Linked DNA regions of Homo sapiens: region 2 is linked to region 1. Evidence: fine-mapped expression QTL. Tissue or cell type: whole blood. Region 1 holds a variant in brackets; the other region holds the start of a gene. All regions are shown on one strand. Distances are between the middles of the regions. Region 1 has its middle 43 kb from the start of RPRM. Region 2 holds the start of RPRM (reprimo, TP53 dependent G2 arrest mediator homolog).

Evidence for each region.
Region 2: RPRM starts here. The variant in region 1 is fine-mapped to the expression of RPRM in whole blood (INTERVAL, PIP above 0.99).

Annotation. Positions count from the first base shown.
Region 1 is chr2:153,430,368-153,442,069 of GRCh38, forward strand. It overlaps a transcript of GALNT13 not described here. Among named protein-coding and RNA genes, the nearest start is that of RPRM, 43 kb to the right of the region's middle. The variant C/G (reference allele first, on the strand shown) is at 5,460.
Region 2 is chr2:153,473,411-153,485,112 of GRCh38, forward strand. It overlaps RPRM (reprimo, TP53 dependent G2 arrest mediator homolog), which reads right to left and starts at 5,352. Exons shown (of 1, transcript NM_019845.3): 1 at 3,928-5,352. The coding sequence starts at 5,155. The coding sequence ends at 4,826. It also overlaps a transcript of GALNT13 not described here. RefSeq lists enhancers at 3,519-4,022, 4,023-4,526, 4,527-5,030 and a silencer at 5,387-5,586.

The sequences.
Region 1 (11,702 bases):
AGATATTTTAAAAATAACATTTAATTTTGTAACAAGTAACCCTTTACATATGTGACTTATAAAGTTACACGTGGTGTATTCTTTTAAGATTTTCATTAATACTAATGGCTTCCTGTCCCCTAAAATGCAAATGATAGGTATTAATAGATAGGTAGGTAGGGAGAGAGAGAGAGAGAGAGAGAGAGAGACTAAGTCTAGCTTATAATTTCAGGGGGATCACAGATCTCTTGAGTCTTTAAGTATCCATTGATCTCGGATGCTCTGCCATGACAGTTGCTTCATATATTTGAATATGTCAATAAACTGCTTATATCCTGGGTATAGAGAACTCACCTGAGGATAGTTATGTTATTTTGATATAAGACCCCTGCTTGAGCTACTCATTTAAAATTTTATAAAGGAAATAAATTGCTTAAATTGAAATCCTCACCAGCTCTTATATTTCTATATAGGGTTTAAACTATTTAGGATTATAAGAGGAATGATATTTAAAAGTTGACGTAGCCAGGCATGGTGGCTCACGCCTGTAATTCCAGCACTTTGGGAGGCTGAGGTGGGCGGATCACAAGGTCAGGAGTTCGAGACCAGCCTGGCCAACATGGTGAAACCCCGTCTCTACTAATAATACAAAAATTAGCTGGGCATGGTGGCACATGCCTGTAATCTCAGCTACTCTAGAGGCTGAGGCAGGAGAATCACTTGAACCTGGGAGGCGGAGGTTGCAGTGAGCCGAGATTGTGCCACTGCACTCTAGCCTAGGCAACAGAGAGAGACTCTGTCAAAAAAAAAAAAAAACAAAAAAAGTTGACATAATTAGGTATACTGTATTTTACTAGGACAATTTTTACTGATGTTATAGTTGCCTAGTTTAAGTTAATAACCTAATTTTGCCCTTTCTTTTTTGTCTTAGGCCTTGAGCATCTTTCCAGATTTTTTCTGCTGAGCTCACCATTATTTTGGCTTTGAAACTCAGTGTGATAGAGGTGATCGTGAGGCATGCCATGTGTAGATGTCTTTCAGCTAATAAATGACCATCCTAAAATTGAGCTTGTCAATAGTGGCTTTTCAGATGAGAGCAGGGACAGAACCTCACCTAGGTATACACTTGGCTTGATTTAAATTACAATTGCACAAAAACAGCAAAGAAGTTAGCAGTAGTTTTGCCCCTTGGTTCTCGAGACCATGTTCATCTGATTACAAAAGACACAGCAAGTGCTGCTCAACCTCCTGCTCCCTTTCTAGGCTTCTAGCCCCTCATTTTGCCTCACAGGAGAGCTCTACTGGACAGACAATTAGCATGGGATTGGAGGCCATTCTCCAGCTTTCTGCATCTGTCAAATGATGGAGAGGGTTTGCCTTTTTCAGATCTTTGTGAAAGGGATCACCCATTTCTTTTAAACATCTAATATATTTCACACAGAATGGCTATAAAAAGTAATCAGTTACATGTATAACACCATTGCTTTCTCAACAATCAGTGAAGACAGTTGAATTTACAGCCAGAAGACAATCACATTATATTGGACCACATATTCATACTTCATTTATTTCTCCCTCAAGTATTGCAGCTGTAATAGCTCCTAGGAAGCTTTAAAAAATATGCAAGAACATTTTAAACTTCCAGGAACACTCAGACTTCAAACTACTTTTTCTTCTTGTATAACATCTTTAAATAATTAATTTTTTTGTTTCTTTTTTAGTGTTCTGGTTTGGGAAATATTAAGATAACTGGAAATGGGAAAAAAAAGGAGAAGGAATTTGTGATTTTTCAATTTCCATGAAATCAACAACCTTGCTTCCTAGAGTGGATTCTTACAGAGGTCAATAGTACACTTGTGTGTTGTTGAAAATTGTTAACACTCCTATCTAAAAGCCACAGGATAGTATTCCAAAGACTGTGAACAACAACTCCAGGGCTCCCAGGGATCCTCAGTTGCTGTTACCACCAGTGGATTTTTTTCAAAAGCATTTTTAAGAAATGGTCATAAGCAGGAATCAAATGGTTTGGAATGAATCTGTTTTGTTGGAAGAAGGGGTTTAATTAACTTTCGAGCTGCACAAATTAATCTGGACTTTAGTGAGGGCCTGAAAATTGATTAAAATGTGAGCACCTTTTCAGAAAGTATTTGACCAGGAAATAAATTCATTTCTTCAAGGTCAGTGACCCTACAAGTTGACAAGTGATTCAGATTAATACACACTTGGGTTTCAAGTTTCACCTATTGCTTGGCAGAAGCTTCTGCCCCATCCCCCACCCCCAGTGCTGCTTGTCATCCACCTGATCTAGTTGTCACCTTTTCTTCTGGACTGTTTTTCTGACAGAAACCCTTTGCAGAGTTTTTGGCTGGGGGGTGGGGAGGTGGTTGGGGGGCATTGCAATCAGTGCAACGTTTCATTTTAGTTGTTTTATTGAAGATTTAATCAACATTATGATTTAAAAATAAGGCAGAAAATAACTTCACCTAGATTAAACTTACCTCTTAAAGATAATAAATGTCCATCAAACAGAATGATTTGTAAAATAGTTTCATAAAATCCTACTTGATTTAATGACCTACCTAATTTTTGCAGTGTCTTTTATTTTTTCTTCTTGGGGGCTAAACACACATAACACGCACTCATGCACGTGCACACACACACAGGCATATACATAGACACTCCAAGCATTTGGAGACTCTCCTCTATATTATCTAGTAATACAAGCTCAGAGGTCAAGCCTTACTGTAAGAGAATATGGAAATAATTAGAGAAATTTTGTGTGAGAGTAAATGAAGAGACTATTTATTCTAAGAAGAGAGGAAATTGTAAAAATAAAAAGTCTCATCATTGATTTCAAAGGAGAACTTGAAACAGGATTCAATCTTGCTACCCTCATTTAAAAAATAAGAAATTGTGGTCTTAGAAGGTTCTGATCTACCACATTCTTTCATAGTTCACATGAAGTGGCAATGGGATGATTTAAGGTGTTTTTATTTCCCCTTGATTTAATGTCAAGTATAATTTAGTGGACAATTATATGTAACACCTTTGATAATTAATTTTCCACTCCAAATTAGGCTTTGGCAATCCTCTTATCCTGGTGTCATTATTCTTATAGAATACTGTACACGTTAACTTTGTTTTCTTTTCTCATTCCCTATTAATGCTTGTTTTTTCAAATAAATATTAACTATTCCACATAACTTCTAAGTAAAGTTTCAGACTTTAATAATACATTTTTTTAATTACAGAGTCAGCATATTCTTTGCAAAAAAAATCCTTAGCAAATACCTAGAGAAGGTAGAGTTTAGCGGAGCAGGAATTTTCTTCATCTTTTAAATTAAAAAATTGAACCAACTCTCCATGTACTTCAACAACTTTTTACCCTCAAAAGAGAAGAGTTTTAACATCATTAAATCCGAACATATATTTGAAAAAATTAGAAATAATGGCCTTATCAGATAGTTACTTATACTTTTTTTTAATTTTATTATTATTATACTTTAAGTTTTAGGGTACATGTGCACCACGTACAGGTTTGTTACATATGTATACATGTGCCATGTTGGTGTGCTGCACCCATTAACTCGTCGTTTAGCATTAGGTATATCTCCTAATGCTATCCCTCCCTGCTCCCCCCACCCCACAACAGTCCCCGGTGTGTGATGTTCCCCTTGTTGTGTTCATGTGTTCTCATTGTTCAATTCCCACCTATGAGTGAGAACATGCGGTGTTTGGTTTTTTGTCCTGGCAATAGTTTGCTGAGAATGATGGTTTCCAGCTTCATCCATGTCCCTACAAAGGACATAAACTCATCATTTTTTATGGCTGCATAGTATTCCATGGTGTATATGTGCCACATTTTCTTAATCCAGTCTATCATTGTTGGACATTTGGGTTGGTTCCAAGTCTTTGCTATTGTGAATAGTGCTGCAATAAACATACATGTGCATGTGTCTTTATAGCAGCATGATTTATAATCCTTTGGGTATATACCCAGTAATGGGATGGCTGGGTCAAATGGTCTTTCTAGTTGTAGATCCCTGAGGAATCGCCACACCGACTTCCACAATGGTTGAACTAGTTTACAGTCCCACCAACCATGTGAAAGTGTTCCTGTTTCTCCACATCCTCTCCAGCACCTGTTGTTTCCTGACTTTTTAATGATCACCATTCTAACTGGTGTGAGATGGTATCTCATTGTGGTTTTGATTTGCATTTCTCTGATGGCCAGTGATGATGAGTTTTTTCATGTGTTTTTTGGCTGCATAAATGTCTTCTTTTGAGAAGTGTCTGTTCGTATACTTTGCCCACTTTTTGATGGGGTTGTTTGGTTTTTTTCTTGTAAATTTGTTTGAGTTCATTGTAGATTCTGGATATTAGCCCTTTGTCAGATAAGTAGGTTGCAAAAATTGTCTCCCATTTTGTAGGTTGCCTGTTCACTCTGATGGTAGTTTCTTTTGCTGTGCAGAAGCTCTTTAGTTTAATTAGATCCCATTTGTCAATTTTGTCTTTTGTTGCCATTGCTTTTGGTGTTTTAGACATGAAGTCCTTGCCCATGCCTATGTCCTGAATGGTATTGCCTAGATTTTCTTCTAGGGTTTTTATGGTTTTAGGTCTAACCTGTAAGTCTTTAATCCATCTTGAATTAATTTTTGTATACTGTGTAAGGAAGGGATCCAGTTTCAGCTTTCTACATATGGCTAGCCAGTTTTCTCAGCACCATTTATTAAATAGGGGATCCTTTCCCCATTTCTTGTTTTTGTCAGGTTTGTCAAAGATCTTATAGTTGTAGATATGCGGCATTATTTCTGAGGGCTCTGTTCTGTTACATTGGTCTGTATCTGCTTTGGTACCAGTACCATGCTGTTTTGGTTACTGTAGCCTTGTAATATAGTTTGAAGTCAGGTAGCGTGATGCCTCCAGCTTTGTTCTTTTGGCTTAGGATTGACTTGGCGATGCAGGCTCTTTTTTGGTTCCATATGAACTTTAAAGTAGTTTTTTTCCAATTCTGTGAAGAAAGTCATTGGTAGCTTGATGGGGATGGCATTGAATCTATAAATTACCTTGGGCAGTATGGCCATTTTCACAATATTGATTCTTCCTACCCATGAGCATGGAATGTTCTTCCATTTGTTTGTATCCTCTTTTATTTCCTTGAGCAGTGGTTTGTAGTTCTCCTTGAAGAGGTCCTTCACGTCCCTTGTAAGTTGGATTCCTAGGTATTTTATTCTCTTTGAAGCAATTGTGAATGGGATTTCACTCATGATTTGGCTCTCTGTTTGTCTGTTATTGGTGTATAAGAATGCTTGTGATTTTTGCACATTGATTTTGTATCCTGAGACTGCTGAAGTTGCTTATCAGCTTAAGGAGATTTTGGGCTGAGATGATGGGGTTTTCTAGATACACAGTCATGTCGTCTGCAAACAGGGACAATTTGACTTCCTCTTTTCCTAATTGAATACCCTTTATTTCCTTCT[C/G]CTGCCTGATTGCCCTGGCCAGAACTTCCAACACTATGTTGAATAGGAGTGGTGAGAGAGGGCATCCCTGTCTTGTGCCAGTTTTCAAAGGGAATGCTTCCAGTTTTTGCCCATTCAGTATGATATTGGCTGTGGGTTTGTCATTGATAGCTCTTATTATTTTGAGATACGTGCCATCAATACCTAATTTGTTGAGAGTTTTTAGCATGAAGTGCTGTTGAATTTTGTCAAAGGCCTTTTCTGCATCTATTGAGATAATCATGTGGTTTTTGTGTTTGGTTCTGTTTATATGCTGGATTATGTTTATTGATATTCGTTTGTTGAACCAGCCTTGCATCCCAGGGATGAAGCCCACGTGATCATGGTAGATAAGCTTTTTGATGTGCTGCTGGATTCGTTTTGCCAGTATTTTATTGAGGATTTTTGCATCGATGTTCATCAAGGATATTGGTCTAAAATTCTCTTTTTTTGTTGTGTTTCTGCCAGACTTTGGTATCAGGATGATGCTGGCCTCATAAAATGAGTTAGGGAGGATTCCCTCTTTTTCTATTGATTGGAAGAGTTTCAGGAGGAATGGTACCAGTTCCTCCTTGTACCTCTGGTAGAATTCGGCTGTGAATCCATCTGGTCCTGGACTTTTTTTGGTTGGTAAGCTATTAATTATTGCCTCAACTTCAGAGCTTGTTATTTGTCTATTCAGAGATTCACCTTCTTCCTGGTTTAGTCTTGGGAGGGTGTATGTGTACAGGAATTTATCCATTTCTTCTAGATTTTCTAGTTTATTTGCATAGAGGTGTTTGTAGTATTCTCTGATGGTAGTTTGTATTTCTGTGGGATCGGTGGTGATATCCTCTTTATCATTTTTTATTGCGTCTATTTGATTCTTCTCTCTTTTCTTTATTAGTCTTGCTAACAGTCTATCAATTTTGTTGATCTTTTCAAAAAACCAGCTCCTGGATTCACTGATTTTTTGAACGGTTTTTCATGTCTCTATTTCCTTCAGTTCTGCTCTGATCTTAGTTACTTCTTGCCTTCTGCTAGGTTTTGAATGTGTTTGCTCTTGCTTCTGTAGTTCTTTTAATTGTGATGTTAGGGTGTCAATTTTGGATCTTTCCTGCTTTCTCTTGTGGGCATTTAGTGCTATAAATTTCCCTCTACATACTGCTTTGAATGTGTCCCAGAGATTCTGGTATGTTGTGTCTTTGTTCTCGTTGGTTTCAAAGAACATCTTTATTTTAGCCTTCATTTCGTTATGTACCCAGTAGTCATTCAGGAGCAGGTTGTTCAGTTTCCATGTAGTTGAGTGGTTTTGAGTGAGTTTCTTAATCCTGAGTTCTAGTTTGATTGCACTATGGTCTGACAGACAGTTTGTTATAATTTCTGTTCTTTTGCATTTGCTGAGGAGTGCTTTACTTCCAACTATGTGGTCAATTTTGGAATAGGTGTGGTGTGGTGCTGAAAAAAATGTATATTCTGTTGATTTTGGGTGGAGAGTTCTGTAGATGTCTATTGGGTCCACTTGGTGCAGAGCTGAGTTCAATTCCTGGATATCCTCGTTGACTTTCTGTCTCATTGATCTGTCTAATGTTGACAGTGGGGTGTTAAAGTCTCCCACTATTATTGTGTGGGAGTCTAAGTCTCTTTGTAGGTCACTCAGGACTTGCTTTATGAATCTGGGTGCTCCTGTATTGGGTGCATATATATTTAGGATAGTTAGCTCTTCTTGTTGAATTGATCCCTTTACCATTATGTAATGGCCTTCTTTGTCTCTTTTGATCTTTGCTGGTTTAAAGTCTGTTTTATCAGAGACTAGGATTGCAACCCCTGCTTTTTTTTGTTTTCCATTTGCTTGGTAGATCTTCCTCCATCCCTTTATTTTGAGCCTATGTGTGTCTCTGCATGTGAGATGGGTTTCCTGAATACGGCACACTGATGGATCTTGACTCTTTATCCAATTTACCAGTCTGTGTCTTTTAATTGGAGCATTTAGCCCATTTACATTTAAGGTTAATATTGTTATGTGTGAATTTGATCCTGTCATTATGATGTTAGCTAGTTATTTTGCTCATTAGTTGATGCAGTTTCTTCCTAGCCTCGATGGTCTTTACAATTGGCATGTTTTTGCAGTGGCTGGTAGCGGTTGTTCCTTTCCATGTTTAGTGCTTCCTTCAGGAGCTCTTTTAGGGCAGGCCTGGTGGTGACAAAATCTCTCAGCATTTGCTTGTCTGTAAAGTATTTTATTTGTCCTTCACTTATGAAGCTTAGTTTGGCTGGATATGAAATTCTGGGTTGAAAATTCTTTTCTTTAAGAATGTTGAATATTGGCCCCCACTCTCTTCTGGCTGGTAGAGTTTCTGCTGAGAGATCAGCTGTTAGTCTGATGGACTTCCCTTTGTGGGTAACCTGACCTTTCTCTCTGGCTGTCCTTAACATTTTTTCCTTCATTTCAACTTTGGTGAATCTGATAATTATGTGTCTTGGAGTTGCTCTTCTCGAGGATTATCTTTGTGGCATTTTCTGTATTTCCTGAACTTGAGTGTTGGCCTGCTTTGCTCGATTGGGGAAGTGCTCCTGGATAATATCCTGCAGAGTGTTTTCCAACTTGATTCCATTCTCCCCATCACTTTCAGGTACACCAATCAGATGTAGATTTGGTCTTTTCACATAGTCCCATATTTCTTGGAGGCTTTGTTCATTTCTTTTTATTCTTTTTTCTCTAAACTTCTCTTCTTGCTTCATTTCATTCATTTCTTCTTCCATCGCTGATATACTTTCTTCCAGTTGATCGCATTGGCTACTGAGGCTTGTGCATTCATCACGTAGTTCTCGTGCCATGGTTTTCAGCTCCATCAGGTCCTTTAAGGACTTCTCTGCATTGGTTATTCTAGTTACCATTCATCTAATTTTTTTTCAAGGTTTTTAACTTCTTTGCCATTGGTTCAGACTTCCTCCTTTAGCTCAGAGTAGTTTGATCTTCTGAAGCCTTCTTCTCTCATCAAAGTCTTTCTCCATCCAGCTTTGTTCTGTTGCTGGTGAGGAGCTGTGTTCCTTTGGAGGGGGAGAGGCGCTCTGATTTTTTGAGTTTCCAGTTTTTCTGCTCTGTTTTTTCCCCATCTTTGTGGTTTTATCTACCTTTGGTCTTTGATGATGGTGACGTACAGATGCGTTTTTGGTGTGGATGTCCTTTCTGTTTGTTAGTTTTCCTTCTAACAGTCAGGACCCTCAGTTGCAGGTCTGTTGGAGTTTGCTGGAGGTCCACTCCAGACCCTGTTTGCCTGGGTATCAGCAGCAGTGGCTCCAGAACAGCAGATATTGGTGAACCGCAAATGCTGCTGCCTGATCGTTCCTCTGGAAGTTTTGTCTCAGAAGAATACCTGGTGGTGTGAGGTGTCAGCCGCCCCTACTTGGGGGTGGCTCCCAGTTAGGCTCCTCAGGTGTCAGGGACCCACTTGAGGAGGCAGTCTGCCTGTTCTCAGATCTCCAGCTGCGTGCTGGGAGAACCACTACTCTCTTCAAAGCTGTCAGACAGGGACATTTTCGTCTGCAGAGGTTACTGCTGCCTTTTGTTTGTCTGTGCCCTGCCCCCAGAGGTGGAGTCTACAGAGGCAGGCAGGCCTCCTTGAGCTGTGGTGGGCTCCACCCAGTTCGAGCTTCCTGGCTGCTTTGTTTACCTACTCAAGCCTGGGCAATAGCAGGTGCCCCTCCCCCAGCATTGCTCCCACCTTGCAGTTTGATCTCAGACTGCTGTGCTAGCAATGAGGAAGGCTCCGTGGGCATAGGACAATCTCAGCCATGTGTGGGATATAATCTCCTGGTGTGCCGTTTGTTAAGCCTGTTGGAAAAGCATAGTATTAGGGTGGGAGTGACCCAATTTTCCAGGTGCCATCAGTCACCCCTTTCTTTGACTAGGAAAGTGAATTCCCTGACTTGTTGCGCTTCCTGGGTGAGGCGATGCCTTTCCCTGCTTCGGCTCACACATGGTGCACTGCACCCACTGTCCTGCATCCACTGTCCGGCACTCCCCAGTGAGATGAACCCGGTACCTCAGTTGGAAATGCAGAAATCACCCGTTTTCTGTGTCGCTCACGCTGGGAGCTGCAGACTGGAGCTGTTCCTATTCGGCCGTCTTGGCCTACTTATACTTTTTAAAACATACTTTTAGTTCTGTGCAGGATGTGCAGGTTTGTTACATAGTATACACTTGCCATGGTGGTTTGCTGCACCCATCAACCCGTCATCTACATAGGTATTTCTCCTAATGCTATCCCTCCCCTAGCCCCCCACCCCCAACAGGCCACAGTGGGTAATGTTCCCCTCCCTGTGTCCATGTGTTCTCATTGTTCAGCTCCCACTTATGAGTGAGAACATGCATTGTTTTGTTTTCTGTTCCTGTGTTAGTTTGCTGAGAATGATGATTTCCAGCTTCATCCATGTCCCTGCAAAGGACATGAACTCATCCTTTTTCATGGCTGCATAGTATTCCGTCGTGTATATGTGCCACATTTTCTTTATCCAGTCTATCATTGGTGGGCATTTGGGTTGGTTTGAAGTCTTTGCTGTTGTGAACAGTGTTGCAATAAACATATGTGTGCATGTGTCTTTATAGTTGAATGATTTATAATCCTTTGAGTATATACCCAGTAATGGGATTGCTGGGTCAAATGGTATTTCTGGTTCTAGATCCTTGAGGAATCACCACACTGTTTTCCACAATGGTTGAACTAATCCACACTCCCACCAACAGTGTAGAAGTGTTCCTATTTCTCCACATCCTCTCCAGCATCTGTTTTTTCCTAACTTTTTAATGATCGCCATTCTATCTGGCATGAGATGGTATCTCATTGTGGTTTTGATTTGCAGTTATCTAATGACCAGTGATGATATGCTTTTTTTCATATGTCTGTTGGCCTCATAAATGTCTTCTTTTGACAAGTGTCTGTTCATATCCTTTGCCCACTTTTTGTTGGTATTGTTTGTTTTTTTTCTTTTGAATTTAAGTTTTTTGTATCTTCTGGATACTAGCCCTTTGTCAGATGTATAGAATGCAAAAAATTTTCCGATTCTGTAGGTTACCTCTTCACTCTGATGATAGTTTCTTTTGCTGTGCAGAAGCTCTTTAGTTTAATTAGATCCCATTTGTCAATATTGGCTTTTGTTGCCATTGCTTTTGGTGTTTTAGTCATGAAGTCTTTGTCCATGGCCATGTCTGGAATGGTATTGCCTAGGTTCTTTTCTAGGGTTTTTATGGTTTTAGGTTTTGCATTGAAGTCTTTAATCTATCTTAAGTTAATTTTTGTATGAGGTGTAAGGAAGGGGTCCGGTTTCAGATTTCTGCATATGGCTGGCCAGTTTTCCCAATGACATTTATTAAATAGGAAATCCTCTCCTCATTGCTTGTTTGTATCAGGTTTGTCAAAAAACAGATGGTTGTATATGTGTGGCATTATTACTGAGACCTCTATTATGTTCCATTGGTCTATATATCTGTTTTGGTACCAGTACCATGCTGTGTTGGTTACTGTAGCCTTGTAGTATAGTTTGAAGTCAGGTAGCCTGATGCCTCCAGCTTTGTTCTTTTTACTTACTATTGTCTTGGCTATACACACTGTTATTTGGCTCCATATGAAATTTAAAGTAGTGTTTTCTAATTCAGTGAGGAAAGTCAATTGTAGCTTGATGGGGATAGCATTGAATCCATAAATTACTTTGGGCAGTATGGCCATTTTCACCATAATGATTCTTCCTATTCATGAGCATGGAATATTTTTCCATTTGTTTGTGTCCTCTCTTATTTCCTTGAGCAATGGTTTGCAGTTCTCCTTGAAGAGGTCCTTCACATCCCTTTAAGTAGTATTCCTAGGTATTTTATTCTCTTTGTAGCAATTGTGAATGGGAGTTCACTCATGACTTGACTCTCTGCTTGTCTATTATTGGTATATAGGAATGCTTGTGATTTTTGCACATTGATTTTGTATCCTGAGACTTTGCTGAAGTTGCTTATCAGCTTAAGTAGATTTGGAGCTGAGACAATGGGGTTTCCTAAATATGCAATCTTGTCATCTGCAGATGGAGACAATTTGACTTCCTCTCTTCCCATTTGAATACCCTTTATTTCTTTCTCTTTCCTGGTTGCCCTGGTCAGAACCTCCAATACTATGTTGAATAGAAGTGGTGAGAGAAGGCATCTTGTCTTGTGCCAGTTTTCAAAGGGAATGCTTCCAGCTTTTGCCCAATCAGTATGAT
Region 2 (11,702 bases), 43 kb after region 1:
AAACATTTAAAACAACACAAAAATATCAGGAAATGAGAACAAAGTGAGATTGGCCATGGAAACAACTTACTATTGAGCATTTAAATTCAGACATTAGGAAACAATTACTACTGAGGCAGCTGCTTTTAAAACATATCCCATTTGAGCTATTGTGCATAGGTCTACATGGGATTTGACAGGTAGAAAAAATATTTGTTGATTCCTGTTTGGAGGATTGCTGCAGACTTGCTGCTTCCACAGGCTTTCAAATTAGGTTTGAGTCTTACAGAACAAACCGAACCCTGGAATCTTTCCTGTCATTGTAACCCCCAAAGTGAGAAGTAAAATAAGCCAGGGTTAAGGAAGGCTCTAAACTGCATGTGGAACAGGTGCTGTGTGCTGTTGCAGAAACTCAAAAGGAAAAATGCTTTAGGGAGAAAAAGTGGATGTTAAAGAGTCTTCAAACACCCTAGTAGTTTCTATAAACAACAGTGCATATTAGTCTGAATGCGTACCTAGAAGAATTGCTTACTCCCCAGTACAATGGGCTTTACTTTCATGGCTTTGTCCTTTGAGAACGCAGAGACCTGGAAATTTAAGGTGCTGGTGAGATCATGCGTAATCGATCAGGTTAAAAACTGTCATCTACTCTGGCCTGGCTAGGTGTCTGAAATTTTGCTTTGATTATTGTAAATAACTTATTTCCAGTAGAGGAGCACTTGTCTTTTGTGAGAAAAACATCTACACAAAAGATCAAGACTGGAAAGATAAAATATATTTTTAAGACACATAATTAAGAGATTTATGAAACATCTTAAGAGAGAACACGTTAAACCAATTAATTCAATGGAATCATAGAATTGGAAGGTTCTTTAGAACCCCTCTTCCTTATTTTAGGGATCAGGCCATTCAGCTGCTTAGTGACCAGAACCAAAATTTCTAAAATCTCAGCCCAGTGTGTCTTTCCCTTCCTAATTCAGAGTTAGTATAGGAAGACACAGTAGCAGGATTGACTTGCATCCAGTGAGAAGCCAGGATGGCTTGGAAATCAGAAATCATGGACCATCTACCAGGAACTAGTGTGATCTCAGACTTGACAGAGTAGTGTGACCTCTGCTTTCACTTCCTTAAAGCTGTCCAGCACTCAAGCTCTTGCTACATTTTCAGAGAGAGTGGGGAGATTCGTATCAACAATCTTAAGAACACTTATCAACAATTGGTTAAGCTACTTATACAGAGGCCACCCAATTAAGCTAAGAGGTATCACTAGCTGTCTGCCCAGCCTGAGATCCCACTAATCCACCAGCTGTGTTTCATGAAAACTTCTCCCTGCATTTGCTGTATTTCCAGAAGGGCTTCAGGAAATATCAGATAAGTCCCCCTGGGCCATGTCAGATCAAGCAAGCTTTTAGAGGAATCTGTCTCTGTCTCTCAGGGACTCCCACTAATTACTGACCAAATGGTGGACTTCAGTGTGGCATGGTAGAACCTGCCTGTTAAATTTATGTATCTAAACTTCTGGTCTCTTAAGGCTGACATTGTTTTCTTAGGTGAAACACAGACAATGGCTTTCAAAACCTTTTTTTCTTAGAGAATGTCTCTGGGAAAGGACCGACACTCCATAAATTCTGAGCAGGATTAAAATGTTTCATTTAAAGCAGTTGTTAGAATGAGGGACAAAGAGAGTCAAAGGCAGAGTGAAAGAGGGAGTGGTGTGGCCCCAGAAAGTGGTTGCTCTGTGGCCATCGGGGAATAGAGAGTGTAAAAAGCTTCTTGCACACATTGCCTCATCTATAAAAACCAGAACTACTTGGCATCTCTCTAAGTAACAAATGGATCTAAGGGCTGGAGAGAAGTGTTGTTGGCAGGAAGTAGTCTCCAGGGCTATGTGCATTGCAGACTGTGCATTTCCCTGTAGTGCATAGATCATAGATTACAAAGCTGTGTTCACATACCTTTTGTATCTAAGGACTACATTTTGCAGGTTTTGGCTTGTTTCATGCACAATTTCTGGGGGTGAGAGAATAAATGTGGATAGTTGAGATAAAGAGAAACTGCATTTTGCTTTTGAGATGCAGGGAAGAGGAAAGAGATGTGAAGAAATACTAAGAGGAACAAGATAGAGAAGATAGAGGTCTTCAACCTTGGCTCCTCTCTCAACTTTCAGGACTTTCAGGACTTTTGTTTTAAATGAAAACCTGTGTTCTATACAATTTAAAATTGACCTGTAGGTTTGACCCCTCCTTCAGCCTCCGCGTGTCTGAAACTCTAAGCATGTGCCCGTACACAGCAGAGTAAAATGCAAGATTTCTACACTCTAGCTGATTTGTTTTTTTATCCCAAATCGAATTCTACCAGAGTACTGGATTCACAGGTGAGCTAATAAATCTTCCAGAAGAAGGGACCCTCAGAGGATGTTGCAGCCACAGCGTGAGTTAAATTTTAAGTGTCTGGTTTGTCCCAGAGAATCCATTGCTCTGCTTTGTGTCTCCCTTTGAAACATGCAGGCAGCAGATTAACTCGGTGCCACAGAAACTGTCTATAAAATAGAACATTGCCATTTCTTGTCCTGTCGGTTAGCAAAAGTAGATTGCTTTCCAAGACTCCTACTGACTACCTATTGACTATCTCTTGACCCTGCCCCCTGCCCAGATACCAAAACAACAAACAAGCAAACAAACCCTTACCTGTTTAAAAGACAGGAACAACAAGCAAAACTTCAAAATCCTCTTTTCTCAATCCTGATATCCATTAGAATTCAAAAAACCATCCTAGGTTGTGATTTCTAACAAGGTTTACTTGAGAGCGAAATGGACACTTAATAGTGGATATGACATTAAAGGCACTCAAAACTTTTGATCCCAATCTTTGAGTCGTTAACATTGTTTACACCAGTTGTGCTTCTTTCTGAGTAAATGGAACACTTTATTATTATTTGATTTTAGTTACTCTTATAGCTGCCATTGTGAAGTCTTTGAAATTTTAATTGCTATATAGCATCCTAGTGGATTCTTTATAGTCTTGAAAATATTTAGGATCCTGTCTCAGGCATAAAAATAAACTGCTCAAAACCTTTTGTCAAGTTTATGCTCGAAGCTATTGTATCCTTTGGGTTATTTTCACAGGCACGGTTTTTAGGCGTTTCTTTCTAACACTGTTGAATTTCTGAACCTTAAATGTGTCAACGGCCATCTGTAGTTCTACTCCAAATATCCTTCCCAGTTGGGGTTGTAATACTCATCTCCCACATTCAGGACCTCGGCTAACTCCTCTCAACCCTTTGCCTGGTCTGGGGCATACTAAATTACAAAGAACAGGCTGAATCTTTTAACGTGGTCTTTTTGCTAGAAAAAGTAATATCACAACGACAGTAATGCATCTCATGTTTTAGTAACAATGGTTTACCCTAGGGAGCATTAACGTCACTAACGTCACTGTGTACCTTAGCAGCTACTTTTCCTCGCATTTTATAATTCCCCTTCCCTCCGCCCCCCGGCCCCACCCGTGGGCAGCATCCCAAAGCCGCCTGGCTGACGTTGGTTAGGGTAGAGACGCCCTCCCTAAAGGCTGTCCAAGCCGTCTCTTCCTTTCATTAGCGGTGTAATCCTGTGTTCCCGCCGGAGCCTGGCACGGAAGTGTAATCTTCCCGCGGGGGCCCTTCTGTCGTCTCGCCTACCTGAGAGCTGAGACTAAATGAAATATAAAATATTCACGATAAGAGGAAACAAAGGATGCTGCCTCCAGGACGGCTACTGTGCCTGAGGCTGGGCTCCTTCTCAGTCATCCCAGGGCCTCTCCGTCTGGCCCCACCCTCGCCCCTCCAGGGGATCCACAAGTTGAATCGCAGCTCTCCAGGGTTAATTGCCCTGGCCGGGAGCCAGACTCCTCACCGCCGCCCCGTTCCCCCCTGCTGGGGAGCGCAGAATGACCACCAGGAGGCCAGGAACAAAACGCTTAAATGTTGCATTTATTAAGGAAATGTTAAATAAGAAAAAAACAAAAAGTCAAAACGGTGTCACGGATGTCAAGAGCACTTTTGTGGCGTAAACCGTGCAGTCACGAGCTACGAGTTCTATTCTGGGTCTTTGTCCCAGGGCCAGCAGGAACGCTAGACGCCTCCCAAAAGACCCAGTGGGAAATGCACTAAAAGAAACAACTCACCCCGTTCAAATTCGCAGGCTCCCCCTCCCCCCACCCCTTCTCCCACAATGACAAAACTGTAACTCCTCAGGCAGGCAAACAGGCCACTGGGGCAGAAAAAGACTTATCAAACATTTGTATTCAAGCAAACAAACACAAAACCTCTTAAAACGGCACGTTACAATCAAAGGTATTTATCGCCCCTCCCCTCCAGGGCAGGGGGGGAGCAGGAGAAGAGTGGGAGCGCACCCGGACACGGATTTGTGAGACCCCATGAGTCTGCTGCGTGGCTTTTAACAGGTCACTCTTCCGGTCACAAGGCGATCAGTGCCGCTGGGTCTCTCCCCTGCCCGCCCTCTCCACCTGCCCCCAGAGCTTGGCCCACCTGCGGGTGGAGAAGGGCCTTCGCACCGTCGGTCTCCCCGCATTCCAAGTAAGTAGCAGCTTCCAAAGTTCTGCGCCCTAATCGCCCTCTTCTTGCCACTTTCTGCTGAGTTCAGAGTCTGGGCGCTCTCCTCCGACTGCCAGGCATGAGGACTTTCAGAGGGCGAGGGAGAAACCGGTCGCTTCTTTCCGAAAGGCCGAAGTCGAGAGAAATAATTGACTCCGACAGGTTTGCTTCGCCCAGTCTCTGATAGTGAGGGGCACAGCCGGGCTAGCAAAGTGGGCAGGCGTGGGAGCGGTTGCCGCGGGGGCAGAGGGCGGGTCAGTAGGGCCCCACGACCACCGCCTCCACCTCCTTAGACGGCCTCCGGTCCTTCACGAGGAAGTTGATCATGCCCTCGGACTTGATGAGCAGATTGCAGCCGAGGAAGAAGATGCCGAAGACCACGGTGAGTGAGAGCACGCACATGACCGCGATCTGCACCACGCGCATTATGTACAGGCTACGCTCGTCCGGGCCTCCCTCCGCGAAGCCGTCGTCGGTCACCACGGACGCCTGGGTGCAGCAGCGCACGGCTCGCTCCAGCGCCTCGCTGCTGTTGGCCAGGAACAGGCCCGCCACGTCCGTCTGGTTGCCTAGGGCCGGATTCATCGCAGGAACGGGCGGGCGCCGCGAGCGGCGCGGGTCCGAGGGGTGGGAAGGCGGCGGCGCTGGAGGAACAGGTGCCGGGCTGAGCGCTCACTCGCAGACTAGCGCGTGCGAGGGCTCCTCGCTCTGCTTTCGAAAGTCCCTGGGCCGTGGGAGTTTCCCAGGAGCCTCTCCGACGCGCGCAGCAGCTAGGCTCTTCTAAAGCCGTCCGCTCCAGCCCTGGTGGTGCTCGTTCCCGGCGCTCGCTCGAGGGGGGGCTGTTGGAACTTGGCGGGGCTGGACCAGCCCGGCCGTGGGAGGTGCGGGCCGCGGCGGCTGCAGCGGCGGGGTGGCTGCGCTGAGCAAACAGCGGCCCCTTCCGGCCGCACCGCCGCGCTGCGCGCTGCTCTTGGGAGGTGGAGGAAGCAAAGGGGCGAACCTGGTCTTGCTTTTTATTGCTTGCTTCTTTTGCAAACTCCAAAGGCCAGGCAGAGGTCACTGTACTCTTCTAGCTTGATGGATGATTAAAGAGTTTGTCGGGGGAGGGTGCGGTCAGCTGAAAGTTTCAGAGGAACTGGGACACACGAGCTCTGCGTGTCCTTTGCCTGCTGCCCCCCTGACCTCTGGGCGAATGGAAAGTGGCGATGAATCGCAGGTGCCAGATGGTGCCGGCTGAGGCCACCCGCCCACTGCCTGTGCTTGACTCCGACTCGCCTGCGTTGGATTTCTAGTGGAGTGGAGGTGATCTGAGAATGTTTCTTACAAAGCAATGAATTTGGAAAGACAGAAAGGCATGGAAGAAGGAAGGAAGAAAGGAAGGAAGGAAAGAAAAAAGGAAGGGAGGGAGAAAGAAGAGCTCTACACCCAGCTTCCTTTACAAAAGCGATTGGGAGACAGAGCAAGGCAGGTTTTACCGTGAGGTTTGAGGCCAAGGAAAGAGGGTTAGAGGAAGGAGGAGTTCTTCTGTGGCCCTTGGGTGGAGGTAGTTGCCGGGAGCAGGGTCACCTCTCTGGTAAAGGAGGTGAACAGAGTGACCACTTGCTTGTAATTTTAATTGCAGATAAGTTTTTGGATGTGCTTCCAGCATTTTGTCCGTTGGCAGTAAATCAGTTGTTGAAGGGAATTGCTCATCAACATCCATCACCTAGAACGCTGGCCAAATACTGGGAGCCCTCCCCATTTTCCATAAGCTGATGTATTTCACCCTTAGTCATTTAAACTAAACACAGATGTTTTTATAGGCCTGATTGACGCTTCAGCCATTGTGATTTTGCTCTAGGTTCCAACGAAATTCTATAAACCTGTCAGATTAAGTTTCTTAACTCTGAAAGAATATTGCATGTTCCCGCTCCCCCTTTTCTGTTTTCTTTCCCCTCCCTCCTTTTCCCCATTACTCCCTGCCTTCCTCCCTCTTTCTTTCAGCTGTAACAGCTGGAAACCAGTAACTTGAGCTTCCAATAGAATACATTTACTTTCTATTAAATGTTCTCACCACAAAGAACTGATAAAAATTTGAGATAATGGGTACGCTAATTACTCTGATTTGATCATTCCACATGTATATGTGTATCAAAATATCACTTTGTACCTCATAAATATGTACAGTTGTCAATTAAAAATAAAATAAAACTGAAAAATAGTAGCTGTCTTGCCATTTTCAACTCTACTCTTAATTTCATTCTGTTTGCTTGGTAAATCCTCTTATTTCTGTTTCTTAAAACATCATTTATTCCATCTTCAGAGTGTTCCTTAAATGTTTTTGCACTGCTTCATGACTATCATAAAATAGAATGAAATGCCTTCTGGTTGAGTTTTCAATTTTTTGATATTTATGGTATATCAGCTGCAATAAGTTTGATTTTTTAAAATAGCTATTATTATTTTGAGGGGGATGTTTAACAGCTGAAAATTCAGGCTTGGGCTTCTACCACAATTCACTGGCTTATTGTTCTAGTTTCCCATAATTTAATTAGAATTGAAAAATACCTCACTCTCGGCAATTTCTTCTTTGAAGAAATTTATTAATAATTGATAAGTAAGAATTTACTTAAATCTCATCATACAATCAGTCTATCTTAGTTAATGTGGGTAGTCCTCAAGAATAATAAAACGTAATGTATACATGGAAAAAATTACAACAAATTTAAGGCAATATAAAGTCATCCTGAGATGAATGGTAGAGAAAAGTAATAGAAATTTAGAAAAATAAAAGGTCAGAGAACAGAGGCCCACCTCCAGGGATCAAGTTGTACAGAACTGTGTGTTCAGTAGAAGTTAGGTGTAAGCAAATGGAGAGCCCCTTCTTTATGTGACAAAAACCAAGAGTTAGTTTATAGTACATTTGTAAGATCCAATATGGAAGGATGCTAAAAGTGTTAGTTGAATCATTATCAGAATTTGAGTATATTTATTGCTAGGAACAGTATTGCTGTTTTCGTCAGGTCAGTGTTAAAATGATCAAACCTTGGAGTCAGGAGAGTTTTTATATTTAATCAAATCTTTGGGTGGGATCTTTTCTCTCAGGTTTAAGGACTAATTAGTCACAAAATTGTTGACAAGGTAATAGGTATTTCCCCCATCAGCTAGTTCAGCTCTCTGGTTTTGTTCAAGACAATCTTGGGATTGTTTCCCTTATTTTCCCTCCACTCTGATTTTGTTTAATAAAATTACTTAGAACATATAGATGGAAATTAATTATAAACTTAGTCATACAAAAATTATATTTATTATTCATTCATTAATTGACTTAAGGGGATCTGTGTTGCTAGAGAAATCTTTATGTTTTACAGAATCCCTTTTATTTATCTTTTCCTTTTGAATTTTCAGTGAACAATTTCAGTTTTTCTCCTTTTATTCACCTGTTTCTTAGGAGAATCTCACAAGTGTGAAAAAAGAAATCTTTAAGAAATGTTGACATTGAAAAACTTAATTTCCAGAAAAATGGATGAACATATGGTATGCAGGGAGCATACTGGTAATTCACTTTAAAGCAAAGATTTTTGATACTGAGAAAGACTAACTGCTGTATTTATTTAACTAGTGTCCTCTTCTACTTCATTGGAAATAGGTAGGTGTGATTTTATGAGAGTTAAAGGCCCAGTATTTTATAACATACATGTTACACAAGGACAGAAACACTGCCTACTCTTTCTGGAAAATATATCCTTGGCCTATAATGCATTCTGTAAAGGTATTTTTACAGAATGCTGATATGGATGGTTGCTGTAATTTATAGTTTGAATAGCCTTGAAGTAGGACCAGATACTCAATGCCAAAAGATTTTTGATTTTCTCTTTTTGTACATTATGAAAATATTAAGCAGATATTTTAAAAAAGGAAATATCAAACATTGAAAGGATATTTATTGCTTTGGGGCAAGCTTTTTAAAAAATAAATTACATTATATTACACAATGTAAGCAGGAGTAAGAGTAAGAACTCAAATTCAGAAGCCACTCATAATAGCAGATTCCATAGCCAAAACATAAGAAAAAAGCCAGAAATAAGCAAAATAGTTTATTGAACCACCAAAATAAATGTCGTAAAAGCTAAATACCTAAGCTCATATATTTCACCCTTAGATTATCCCTCCCCAAATTCTTTCTCAGAACCTACGACTTTGATTTTTCACAGTTTTAACTCACTTCTTTGTCTATTTTTCTTAATGACAGGATATCAGTATCAACATGTGTTCTGAAGAGGAGGAAATGGCTAGGGGGTAGGTGCTTTTACAACCACAAAGAGTAACAACAGAAGGAAAAAACAGAATGTTAAACAGCATACACAGACTTTCTAAGAGTATTAAGTAATAGTTTGGAGACATTTAATATAGAGACAAGCAGTCTAAATGGCAAGTAGACTACATAAAGGCATGGCTTTCAATCCTGTTGTCTTTACTTACAACCATGTAATCTTGGGCATGTTTTTTGTTTTTGTTTTTGTTTTTTGAGATGGTGTCTCGCTCTGTTGCCCAGGCTGGACTGCAGTGGCACGATCTGGGCTCATTGCAACCTCCGCCTCCCAGGTTCAAGCGATTCTCCTGCCTCAGCCTCCTGAGGAGCTGGGCTTACAGACATGCACCACCACACCTGACTAATTTTTTATATTTTTGGTAGAGACAGGCTTTTGCCATGTTGGCCAGGCTTGTCTCAAAACCCTAACCTCAGGTGATCAGCCTGCCTTGGCCTCCCAAAGTGCTAGGATTACAGGCGTAGCCAACGCACCCAGCCTTTTTTTTTTTTTTTAAATCCTCTATGTACCTCATTTACTTATCTGTTAAATGGGGATAACACTTTACAGAATTTTGAAAGGATTGATCTATTCTATGGAAACAACTGGAAAACAGTACCTAGCACATAGCAAGATCTCAAATACAGATATATTGCAATAGTTCCTGAGGTGGACATCAATATGCATAAGTCATTAAATGAAAAAAGCCATTAAATTTTATTCAATAGTTTTCTTCTAAGAAGTCTGGAAAGTGAGTGAAACATTTTAGAAAGATTTCCATATAAAATGGTTGACCTTGGTGAGTAAAAAATGCTAAGGATGTGGAGAAATTGGAACCCTCGTGCATTGCTGGTGGGCATGTAAAATGGTACAGCCATTGTGAAAAACATTATGGTGGTTCCTCAAAAAATTAAACATAAAATTACCACATAATCCAGCAATTCCACTTCTAGGTATATACCCCTCAACATTGAAATCATGTACTTAAACAGGGATATGTATATTACTGTTCATAACAGCATTGTTCACAATGGCCAAAAGGTGGAAGCAACCCAAACGTCCATCAACAAATGAAGTGATAAACAAACTGTGGTATTTACATAAATGGAATATTATTCCGCCTTAAAAAGGAATAAAATTCTTTTTTTTTTTTTTTTTTTTTTTTGATACGGAGTTTTACTCTGTTGCCCAGGCTGGAGTGCAATGGCGCAATCTCAGCTCACCGCAACCTCTGCCTCCAGGGTTCAAGCAATTCTCCTGCCTCTGCTTCCTGAGTAGCTGGGATTACAGGTATGAGGCACCATGCCCAGCTAATTTTGTATTTTTAGTAGAGACGGGGTTTATCCATGTTGGTCAGGCTGGTCCTGAACTCCCGACCTCAGGTGATCCACCTACCTTGGCCTCCCAAAGAGCTGGGATTATAGGTGTGAGCCACCACGCCCGGCCCTGCCCTGAAATTCTTATAGATGTTACAACATGTATGAACCTTGAAGACATTATGCTAAATGAAATAAGCCAGATAAAAAAGAATAATATGGTATGATTTCACTTTTAAATGAGGTACCTAGACTAGCCAAATTCAGAAAGCAGCATGATAGTTACTAGGGATTGGGGAGAGGAGTAACAGTAGTTATGGGTACAGAGTTTGAGTTTGGAATGATGAAGAGTTTCTGGAAATGGATAGGGTGATGGTTGCACAAAAATATGAATCTACTTAATGCCTCTGAATTGTACATATAAAAATTGTTAAAATAGTTTTATGTTTTATGTACTTTACCACAATAAAATATTCTAAATATTTTAAATTAGATTTGAGATAAATATTTACATTTTTGAAAATACAGAACACTTAGAAAATAATCCCCCCAAATGTATTACTCTCATAGCTCAAAGATACTCACCCTAGTAATGTAGACTATTTTTTTCTTTTTACTATACTTATTTGAACATAGCCATGACTATATAGTAAATACAATTTTATACCTTGCTTTTCCTTCTTAATACTACATTTGTCCATGGCATTAAAAACTTATATACACATTTTAGTGAGTATAGTATTCCATTATGTGAACATACTATAATTTATTTATTAAACCATAACTGAGCAGTTATATTGATCTCGAATATTGTTATTGAATTAATTATGCACAAAGAACATTTTTCCTTATAATGTTTCCTATATTTAAATTACACTTTTAGGATGAGTTTACAAATTGAAATTTTTAGTAAAAACTATTATTTTTACAGAAAGCAAAAAGCAACCAAATTGTTTGCCAAAAAAGGTGTACCCGATTTTTACTCCTATTTGTAAAGCATGCAAACACCCATTTTATCCTAATCTTTAGAGCATTAGTTCTCAACTTTGGCTACATGTTAAAATCACCTAAAGATGCTTTAAAATTTTTTATACCCAAACCAAACCCACAATGATTAAATCAGAATTTCTGGAGGTAGGGCCCAAATGTCAGCATTTCTCAAAATCTTCCAAATGATTCAATAGTCTAGCCTGATTGAAAACCATTGTTTAATGTTTTCCAAGCTTGCCTTAAGATCAACTAGGATGGGGATGGGGGATAACTGGTTTCTGCCTCCTATTGCCAGTCAATTGAATTAGAGTTCCCCAAACTTGCTTCCTGGGTCTATCTACTGAGATTTTGCTTTGGTCAGTTTGAGGGGATTCCTATAAACTTGTGTTTTTACTGCATAACCCCAGAAAGACTGTTCTTGAGCACCAAGAGTTATGATTTTTAAAATTATGGTTGCAAGTTTGTCAGGGAAAAGGTGGTACCTTGTTTGAAGTTGCATGTTAGTATTGTAGTGGACAAATTTTCTAAAACTTTCTT